Linked DNA regions of Homo sapiens: region 2 is linked to region 1. The links come from fine-mapping of genetic effects on gene expression. A gene starts in region 1. The other region holds a variant in brackets. All regions are shown on one strand. Distances are from middle to middle. Region 1 holds the start of TAFA2 (TAFA chemokine like family member 2). Region 2 has its middle 25 kb from the start of TAFA2.

Region 1 (5,000 bases):
TTTAAGAAATATATTTTGCTAGGCTACATCTGTCATAGATAATGATTCCTCTGATGGATCTGGGCAAAGTAAATTGAAAAGCTTCTGGAGATCATTCACCATTCTAGATGCTAGAAGAGTTGCTTCTGTGGATGAGCAAAGTAGTTTTTTTTGAGATGGAATTTACTCATGGTGAAGATGCTGTGAATATTGTTGAAATGACAACAAAGGATTTTGAATATTTTATAAACCTGACTGATAAAGCAGTGGCAGAGTTGAGAGGACTAACTCCAATTTTGAAAGAAGTTCTACTGTGGATAAAATGCTATCAAGCAGCATTGCATGTTACAGAGAAATCTTTTGTGAAAGGAAGAGTCAATTGACACAGCAAACCTCATTATTGTCTTATTTTAAGAAATCGCCACAGCAATTCCAACCTTCAGCAACCACTACCCTGATCCATCAGCAGCCATCAACACTGAAACAAGACTCTCCATCAGCAAAGAGATTAGGAATCACTGAAGGCTCAGATCATCAGTACACTTTTTTTAAAAAAAGCATTAAACCATTTTCAAGGTAAGATATGTACATTTTTAAGACAAAATGCTATTGCATACCTAATGGACTGCAGTATGGTGTAAACATAACTTTCACATGTGTTGAGAAACCAAAAAAATTGTGTGACTCACTTTATTGCAATATTTGTGGTGGTTTGGAACCAAACCTGCAACATTTTTGAGGCATGCCTGTAGAAGGTAAGAAGTATCAACAAAAAATTTCTGTTAAATTAGGAGAATCTTTACTACTTTGTTTCCTTTGAAGAGAATGCAAAAGATTTTATTTTGTCTAGGAGATGCTGGAAATAGGAATATCTTGATCTAAAAATTATTGGGAATTATTTACAAAAAGCACAGAGGTTATGATAGAATTTCAGCATCATATGACATTGGATAAGAAATTTTGTTCTATTTTGTAATTAATTTATATATCTGTTCTCTTTACTTTTTCATATATTGTAAAAACACAGTGGGTTTAGTTAGAAAAATAAGGCTGAAAATGTCCCACACTTAAACAATACAAATAAAATTTTAACAAGATGACAAAACTATAGATTACAACCACAAAAAGTTAATGAATTAGAAGGTAGAAAGATTATAATGTATGCTTTATGTTTTTTTGTATGTGTGTGTGTGTGTGTGTGTGTGTGAAAAGAAAGCCAATGTTCTAAAGTGATTTTGTAAGTGACTTCTTTCTAGTACAGAGTCCAAGTTTCCAATGTCATTCCTGCTTGAATTTCATCACACTATTGAACACAGCAGACAAAAAAATACTGTAAGATTTGCAGTGCAACAGTGCCAGGTGTTTTAAAATGTAAACGTTGCTTTCCTGGATATAAGTTACTATGTAAGTGGAATGAAATATTTAATCACATGGCATAAATCTTTTGAAAGAGACTATCTGAGAGATCCTTGGAAACAAATGATTGCTGTATACTACTAGACAAAGTCAAATATGCCATAGAGCAATTAGTTACGGTAAAACTTGCCTTGTTTAGTTTTGGTGCTTTGTTTTAAATGATTTCAACTAGTCTCAGCTATTTAAAAAATACATTCTTTTCTTTCTTTATGACTGTGCTAATTTAGATTATCAAGTTAAAATAGAACTGCTCCAGAAATTCAGAGTGAATGGAAGGGTGTTTAATAATAACTTTAATACACATTTTACAATTTTTGAACATACAGAAACATTTTGAAAGCAAACCCCCAGCTCAAATAGTAAGTTCACAAAAATCTAAATGTTAAGGTTACAGATGGGACCTAGCTTGATTTGGACTGATGTAACAAAACTTTATAAAATCGGTGGAGCTATTTTTTATAAAAATGACCACCTCAACATAATTAAATTACTTGATGCATTTTAGATACAAAATATGGTTGATTTACTAAGCATGTTAAGATAAAATAGCTAAGTGAAGCACATATTCTATATTTCTTTGTAAATATGGTATGTAGTATTACTTTTATTTTATAGCTGGTGAAGAGAGCTTGTGATACCTAATTTGTCAATGGTTTCAGTGAATCACAGCTATATAAAAGCACAGACCTTTAGAGCTGGAAGGAATTTAGCTATCTTGACCATTATTGGTCTAGTTGAAAAAGAGGTATGAAAACTGGCTCCAAAACCAGATTCTTGAGTTATCTTTCCTTGTAAAGGACTTGTAAAATTTCCTGGGTCAGCATTCCCTTTCTTTGTTTCAGATTTTCTTTTTCTGAATTCATTCTTACTAATTATTCATTTTTGAATAGTCTTCTAATCACTAGATTAAGGTTTTGCTCATCTCCAAACATGATCGAAGTGAGCCTCAGAAGACCCTTCATTTGAGCTCATATGCACAGCGCTTAAACCGACACCCAATTTGACCAAACATGTAAGGACATGACCTTCCAGCGTCATGAATATCACGACGTTCCTTTAGCAAGGGCTTTGCTTAATAGGGCTGCAGTGAAAATCCTCCGTCTAAATCCTTGAGAAGTTGTAATTTGTAAAAATGCAAATTATCTGAAACCAGATATTTTTTTCTTTTTCTTTATGGAGAGAAACTGGTCTGTTACATCTAGTAAAGCGTTCTAATCCGGTTGACCCTCTAGAGGGAGACATAGTCCAGCTTTTATACCAGTTGCCTCCTCATCTTTTACTGTCTCGTTCTTTTTCTGCAGGACCGTTGTTTGCTCTCAACGGCAGTTGCTGGGGCTAACAGAACTGGCTGTTGGGAGAGAGAGGCGAGGCAACGCCGCCCGGCCCTGCCATTCCATTTTACTGCTTAACTCAACCTGGAGTGTCAGGACCTATTCTCCTGCATTCTCGCTGCACTATACGGGGGAGCCAAGTCACTCTGTACTCACTGGACAGCCAGGCTGGGTGGAATAGGGTTCTAGAGTGGAGCAGGGGCTCTGCCCTTTATGGCGACTTTCTAAAAGATTAGCATCAGTGTCTTTTGACAGTATAGCATCTGGGGTGGGACGCGGAGAGGAGGCTTTGCTTGCTAAACGGCTTCTTTCTCCGCCGGTGATCTGGATTTGTTTCCTCGGCCCCCTCCCCCCGCTCCTTTCTTTCTCCCCTCCCGCCTTTAGCAAAGTGACACAGGCGACACCTGCTCGCTTGTGTTCGATGTTGGAACTCGCACCTCCTCGGTGGTGACGGTGCCAGGGCACTGCTACCAGGGGGACATCGGCGGGTTTCCCTTCCTTCCAGCCCACGATGCCTAGAAGGGCAGCGGGTGGGCTGCGTGGGGCTCTGCCCGCAGCACTTCGAGGCGGGATTGAGGGGCTGAAGCTGGCCAGGAGTTGCTGCTAAGTGGATTCGAGTGGAAGGCGCCAAGTCTCCGCGAGGGCACCAGCGGGGACCTATCTGCGAGCAGTGGGAACAGGGGCACCTGGACGGAGGAACGCGGGCGTCTGGAGGGGGGACATCGGCTGAGCTCAGAGCCTCTCCTCCTTCCTGTCCCGAGCTTCCCAGCAACTCCGCCACGTTGGAGACCCGGTACCTGCGAGAGCCAGGGAACTCGAGAAGTGCGTGGCCGAGGCTGCTTTCCTGAAGGTGAATCATTCTGTCCAATTGCCTTTCCCCAGAGAACAAGAGGGAGGGCGGGAGAGAGGGAACGGAGGATGTGTGAGTGTGTGTGTGTGTGAGAGGGAGAGACGACGTGAGGCGAGAGGAAAAGTCTTTAGTCGGCCTTAAAAGCAAACAAATCAGAGATGGAATAAGAGCGGTAATTGCAGCAAGACCGCCTTGATTCTTGCAGTCCAGGGAGCTGAGCGCACCGCGCGCATCCGGCGAGGACAGGAGGCGACCGCGGGCGCTGCCAAGGGCTGCGGGACTTTGGCTTTTCCTCAGTAAACAAATCTTTTGATTACTTTGACACTGTGGAATAAAGAAGCGGGGAGAAGGATCAGGCTCACCTTCACCCGCTTCAGGGGGATTCCAGCTTGGATGTCAGATTCCTGAACCGTCTTTGCCATCGGAGGAGGAAACACATCCACACACGCGCGCGCACACTCGCACGCTCAGGGCCACACTCACACGCCGCCCTCCACGATCACACAGCACCAGACTTCGGTTCCCTATGCCCCTGGATGGTGACGGCGGATTGGCATCTTGGAAGCGATGCGAGAGCGATAAGGCTGGCGCCGGCCCGCAAAAGCTGCAGGAGCATCGCTAGGTGTTGCCGCCACCGGGAAGCGGGGCTGCAGGTAGGTGCGAGCCGCGCCTCGGGTCGCCGGCCAGCGCTGGGGACCGGAGCGGCAACTGCAGGACCGCGGTCCCGGAAGCCCCCGTGTGCACACGTCTCCCTTCCCCTTTCTCGGGGGTCCGGGACTGTAGAGGGATCGCCCGGGGAAGGCGAGAGGTGAGGGCAGATGCGGGTCCATCGGCCGGCGTCTCCCTCGCGGGCGGTCAGGGTAGGGGCGGAGTAGAGGGACGCCGAGAGGGGATCGGAGCATGCGAAATGAGGCTCCGTGAGCGGTGCCCTCCCTCTCTGCCCCATTTCTCCTAATAACAGCAAACGACCAGGTCGAGGATTGAAGTGGGTTGTAATTCGATTCCTCACCCAGACCCATCCTGGCTGGTAACCATTTTGGACTCTTAATAAGGAGTTGGGGGTCGCATTCCAGGGAAGATCAATGGGATGTGTCAGGTCATCTTTCTGAAATCCCTACTTTTTGTCCACTTCTGATTAGTTAATTCTCAGGCCTGTTTGCAGAAGGTGGGTGTTTCAGCGAGTCTATTGATTTATCCACCTCTAACTATCTTCATAAAGAATCAAGCTGATAATTTCCGGAGCCTCATCTATGTAAGGTTTATTTAGATTTGGGACGGGGCGCTTTCTTACTGAATGAAATAAAGCTTTTGTAAAGGCTACTACAAGAGAGCTTTAGTAAATGATTCTCTTAACGAACAGCGTTCAGAATAAGAATGGCTTCGGGAAACTAATGGTTTTTTATTTCTTTCCGGTTAGATGTCTC
Region 2 (5,475 bases), 25 kb before region 1:
TGTAGTGGTATCTCATTATTGTTTTAGATATTTTTAAAAATTTTTTGTCTTGTTTTTTATATTTTATTTCTCATTTTATTAATTTGTAGTTTTTTCCTTTTTAGTAAGTGGGTGTAATTTTGTAATTTTTTAAAAGTAATGATTAGTTTTTAAAATGATTTTTCCTTTGAGTTTATTGTTTCCATTTCTTTCATTTGACTTTTACTTTGTTCTAGTTCTAACTTCATTAGGTTTTTTTTATTTGGTGGCTTGTTTCTGCCTCTAGTGAGGTTTTGCCTTTATTAAATAAAACAATTGCATCTGAGCAGTTGTTTTATTTTTGGTAACATTTCAATAATTTAGTTGTTTAAAAATGCTCCATAACTTTCTTCTAGATTTTTCCACTTCCCAAAATGTACTAGGTATTTTCAGTTTTCATCTTATATTCTCTTTGATCTGCTGATCACTGGGTTTAAAAATAGTTCATATCTACAGCTTAGCTTGTTGAGTATTTTCTGCAAAAGAATGAGATTTTGTGTTGTGTTTTAAAGGTAATGTGTTAGAATCATTTCTTTACTTTAACAACCTATTGAAAGAGGAACACTTGCAGATATAGTTATAACTTAATAGAAGGAGGCACAGTTTTCATGTACTGGGTGAGTGATTTATATTAAAAGCAGTTAGGTTATATAGTCAGTGATTTAATTGTAAATTTGGTGAGCAAATTCAACCCCTTATGACAAATAGTGCTTACAACTTTAAGTGAACAAACTTTTCTTTAGAAAATAAGTTTCTTTTATAACAAACACCCAATTTCAAAGGTTCAATTCAACAAGACTTGGAATTTTCTATTAAAATTAACTTTTGATTATTATCGAATAACTTCATCCTTGGTATACAAAAATTCAGGTTTATGTGATTTAGACTAACTGTAGATTTAATTTAAATTCTGGGGTTGCTGTGTGTAAATATTCTCTAACCTTCTCCTGTATCTGCCAATGCTTTGCATTTCCAAAAGCACTTGTGTTAGCAACTTCTTCAAGTTTTCTATTAAAGACTAATAAAATTGTGACCTATGATTTCATTTACAGTTTTAACCGAAGCTAATTTTTCATCTCTACACTTTAAGTAATTTCACAGATGAATTTCTCTTAGTTTTGTTTTTGAATTCTTTTATGTTAACCTAAGTTTTTTTTTTCAAAGCTGGAGCATATTTTTATTCATCAATTTGCAGAGATATAATCTTACTGTGAGAAACTTAAGTTGTTTTGTGTGTTTTCAAAAATGTTTTCCCACTAAATTTTCTTTTGCTATATTCTCCCTGGTATGTTATTCATTGTCAGTAATTAAAATGCTATTTTGTCCTCATCTTTTCTAATTATGTGTAAATTACAGTTTTCTTATATTGTCATTTTAATTCTATCATCTCAAATCCAAAATGTCATAATGTCTAGCTACTTTGCAAGTATGATATTATTGAATCTCCTATGTAAATGTGTAACAGCCTGAAAAATGTCCTTCAGAATATCTTTGGTAAATAGAAAACTATTCCAATTTAAATGTCCTTTAGATATCTACTCTGATTATCACTGATTTATTGACTTTGTGACTTGCAATGAGAAAGCAACAAAAAAAAAGAGAAAGAAAATAAATGGCTATGTATAATATTATATCCAAGAATATCTGAAACATCTATTTCATTCATAGATTTAAAGCTATAAAGATCGTAAAGATAGTAGTACTATATTATAAAATATAGAGCTGTGCTTGACATATTGTAGGTGCTAAATAAATATTTATTAAATGAGTGAATGAAATTCAGAATTTTCACAGGAGGCAAACACAGTACGGGTTGGGTTAGGATATTTAGCTTTTTCTTTGCTGAATAGCAAATTGTGGTAGTTCTCCAGGCTAACATTATCCCTCACTTTGATAACTAGGGATGTGAGCCTACCCAACTGATCACATACTAGCATTTCAAGTAATAGGGGATGTGTTCATCAGACACGGGTAGGAGAGACTCTTTTCCTTTCCTTCCCTCATTTCCTTTCTTCCACTGTTTTTTCTTTACAAATTAAAATTCAGGCCAGGTGCAGTGGCTCACTCCTGTAATCCCAGCACTTTGGGAGGCTGAGCGGGGAGGATTGCTTGAGTTTAGGGGTTCAAGACCAGCCTGGGCAACATAGTAAGACCTCATCTCTACTAAAAATTTAAAAAGTTAGCCCGGTGTGACGGTGCGTGCCTGTAGTCCCAGCTACTTGGGAGACTGAAGTGGGAGGATCTATTGAGCCCAGGAGGCTGAGGCTGCAGTGAGCTATGATCGCATCACTGCAGTCCAGCCAGGGCAACAGAGTGAGACCCTGTCTCAAAAATAAATAAATAAATAAATAAATAAATAAATAAATAAATAAATACATACATAAAAATAGATAAATTCAATCAGCATTAGTTTTGAAAAGTTCAGAAGTAAAACTTTTTTCTCCTGGCTCATTTTCACTTACTCAACTCAATAGCATTTTGGTAAGTACCCATCTCAGGTATGTTTGCTTGGGAAAAAAGATTCTAAGATGCAAATTTGTCTGAAAGAAGTTTACTGAAGAATGTCCTTGGGATCGATATCTGTGAGAGAGCAGAGGAAGTAAGAATATTCATGGGAGAGCTGAGCTGTGATGCAATTGTGATAATGGCTTCAGCCACCTCGAGGGAAGCTCTGGAACAGGTATGGCCCTTCAGAGTTGGCCTACTTTGAAGGAAGGGCTGGGCCTTATAACTTTACATCTGGATCAGTCACTGAAAATGAGCTTCCCTCTGGAAAGGGACTTGATCTTGGGCAAGAGGCTTTCTTCAGCTGACTTGGGCAGCTCTGGGAGAACCTACCTCATAACAGACAGTTTTAGTCCATTAATCACTTGATCTTCTGTAATTAGACTCTTTGTCTTTTCTCTCTGTCTACCAGGGCCCAGTTGCACTGCAGAGAGCTTTTATTTTAAAAAATGGTGTGTAACTCCTTACTTCAGATGGAGTGGTTTGATCCAGAATCCTAGGTATTTACATTGTGGTTTTACTTTAGGGCCTTGCCATAAACTCCACATATTATCTTTTCCTATTACTGATGCTTTTCATACTGAAAGGTCTGCTGGATCATATGGCCCAAGTACTCCCTGTACCTGCTGCAGGGCTGTCTGCTGCTTTGGACCCCACTCAAAGCTTGTAGCCTTTCATGCTATCTAGAGGGTGGGTAAAAGCAGTATTTGCCAATATGTAATATGTTAAACATGTTAGCCAAAGAGGAATACCAGAA[T/C]ACCAGGCATGGTGCTTCCCTTTTTGCGGAGAGACATATAAGATACAATAATTTGTTTCATTTAGAGAGGATGTCGCAGCTTGTACCAGATCACTGGACTCCCATATACTACCTACATGGCATTTCCCTGAACCCTTATAGGGTTTAGCTCCCGCACTCTGGAATGCATATGGTATACCGTAATGTATATGCTAACTTCTTGCTTGTCTAGTCCAATTAATATGGTACCACTGAAATAGTGAACCAATGCTATGTTTTGACAAATGACCAGTTCGGGCATCTTTGAAATACATTATGTCAGAGGGCAAAAGAATTAACCTAGCTTTGGGTAAGACTGTAAACATATACACCTATCTGTTTCAAGTGAATTCAAACCATTTCTGATCTTTCCAATAAGATTGGAAAATAAAGCGTTTTTCAGATCAACAATAGTATACTGTGTATTAAGAATTTGTGGTAATCTGCTCTAGCAAAGAAGCCACATCTGGGACAACATCTATAGTTGGAACTACTTTTCTGATCGAGTTTGCCTTACTTTACTGTCATTCTCCAAGATATGTCTGTTTTTTGTAGGGTCCTTGCTGGTCAGTTGAAAGGGAATAGGATGAAAATCAGCAACCAAATATTATGTAGGTTTTTAAAGGTGTCATTAATCTCTGCCACCACTTCCCCAATACCCACACTAACAAACAGATGAAATGCTGTTTGTTAAAATTTACTGTCTTGGGAAGGAGCAGTTTCAGAGTTTAAAATTACCTTTCTCTACTATATGGGTCTTATTCCACAGTCTAAGGTACCAACATGGGGGTTCTGCTAATTACCAAGCATGTCCACTATTGTTATTCAATTAGCAATGGCAGTAGTGACTACTGGATAGGTGTGTGGACCCGCAATTGGATAGCACTTGGCCAGACTCCATTTGTTACTTTACCCCCATATGCTGGTTCTCTAACAGAGGAATGTAATGATGCTTTAGTGTCAACTCAGACTCTGTGTCCAAAAGTCCTTGAAACATTTGGGTATTTTCTTAGTTGAGAAAATGGCTTTTGGTACTGTCCCCTTGGGGAAGGATTGAGGAAACTGTTACTTTATTCACTTGCCATGGTGATACAGGGTCTCTAGAAACCCCATCTTTTGATGGGCAAAACCCACTGGTCTTTACAAATAGCAATTCTTATAAAATTTCATTTGATGCTCATGACAACCATTATCATTAGAGTAGCTGCTATTATATAAGAGCTCTCTGTCTACAAATAAGAAACCAAGATTCAGGGAGTTTAGGTCACACAAAATGTAACTTGCAAGTGTCATATCTCTTTTTTTTTTTTTTTTTGAGAAACAAGTTGTTTCTCTTAAGCAAGAGAAACAAGTTGTTTCTCTTAAGCAAGAGAAACAAGTTCTTCCTCTTAAGCAAGAAAAACAAGTTCTTCCTCTTGTTTTTTTTTTTTTTTGATAAACGAGTTGTTTCTCTTAAGCAAGAGAAACAAGTTCTTCCGCCCCTTTTTTTTTTTTTTTTGAAAGACAAGTTCTTTCTTTTTTCCAGCAGAGACTGTGGCTGCAGTAAATTTTCCCTGAGTAAGATTGTACTTATTTAATTTTTTGTGTCTAAAAAGCAGAGTTGAATAGCAAGAGCTTGGTGAAAATGTCAGTACTTCCCCAGGCTATGAGATGTTCTGGAAAATTTGTTATTCTTGTATCCTATTACCTTGCCTTTTCCCATTTCAGGTTATTCCTACTGTTGGAGCAACTACTGAGAAGGGAAAACTCAAATGATTTAGAGATAAGACACACAGGGCTGCTTTTGGTGACTGCACATCTGCATTCAATTAATAAACAATTTGTGAAAAATTGACTTACCAATAACCCAAAATGTGAACAAGTAGACATTGACTTTTGTTCTTCAATTCCAAAACCTGGAGGTATGATTGTCTTGGAAAGTTTTGGTCTCTTATGAGGATATACAGAGATAGCTTGTGCAAAAGTAATGATTTCACTTCTTAGTACTCTCTCTTAGGTGAGAGTTGCACAACTTCCTTTTCTCTCTAGTCTGGCCCCTTTGAGTCAGGAGAGTGGGTCTCAGAATTGGTGCAGGGATGTAAGTAGAAATGGTTATCAAAATAAATGGAGCCTTTAAAGATAGTATCTCTAGAGTGGTATCCCTTCTTATCACTGCTTTGAGGCATATTATATTAGAA

What was found.
Region 2: its variant is fine-mapped to the expression of TAFA2 in whole blood (INTERVAL, PIP above 0.99). The same link has a PIP of 0.9 or more in monocytes.

What each region holds. Positions count from the first base shown.
Region 1 is chr12:62,190,488-62,195,487 of GRCh38, reverse strand. TAFA2 (TAFA chemokine like family member 2) reads left to right here and starts at 2,715. Exons shown (of 5, transcript NM_178539.5): 1 at 2,715-4,229. RefSeq lists a silencer at 1,126-1,420 and an enhancer at 2,790-3,323.
Region 2 is chr12:62,214,885-62,220,359 of GRCh38, reverse strand. It overlaps a transcript of TAFA2 not described here. Among named protein-coding and RNA genes, the nearest start is that of TAFA2, 25 kb to the right of the region's middle. The variant T/C (reference allele first, on the strand shown) is at 3,281.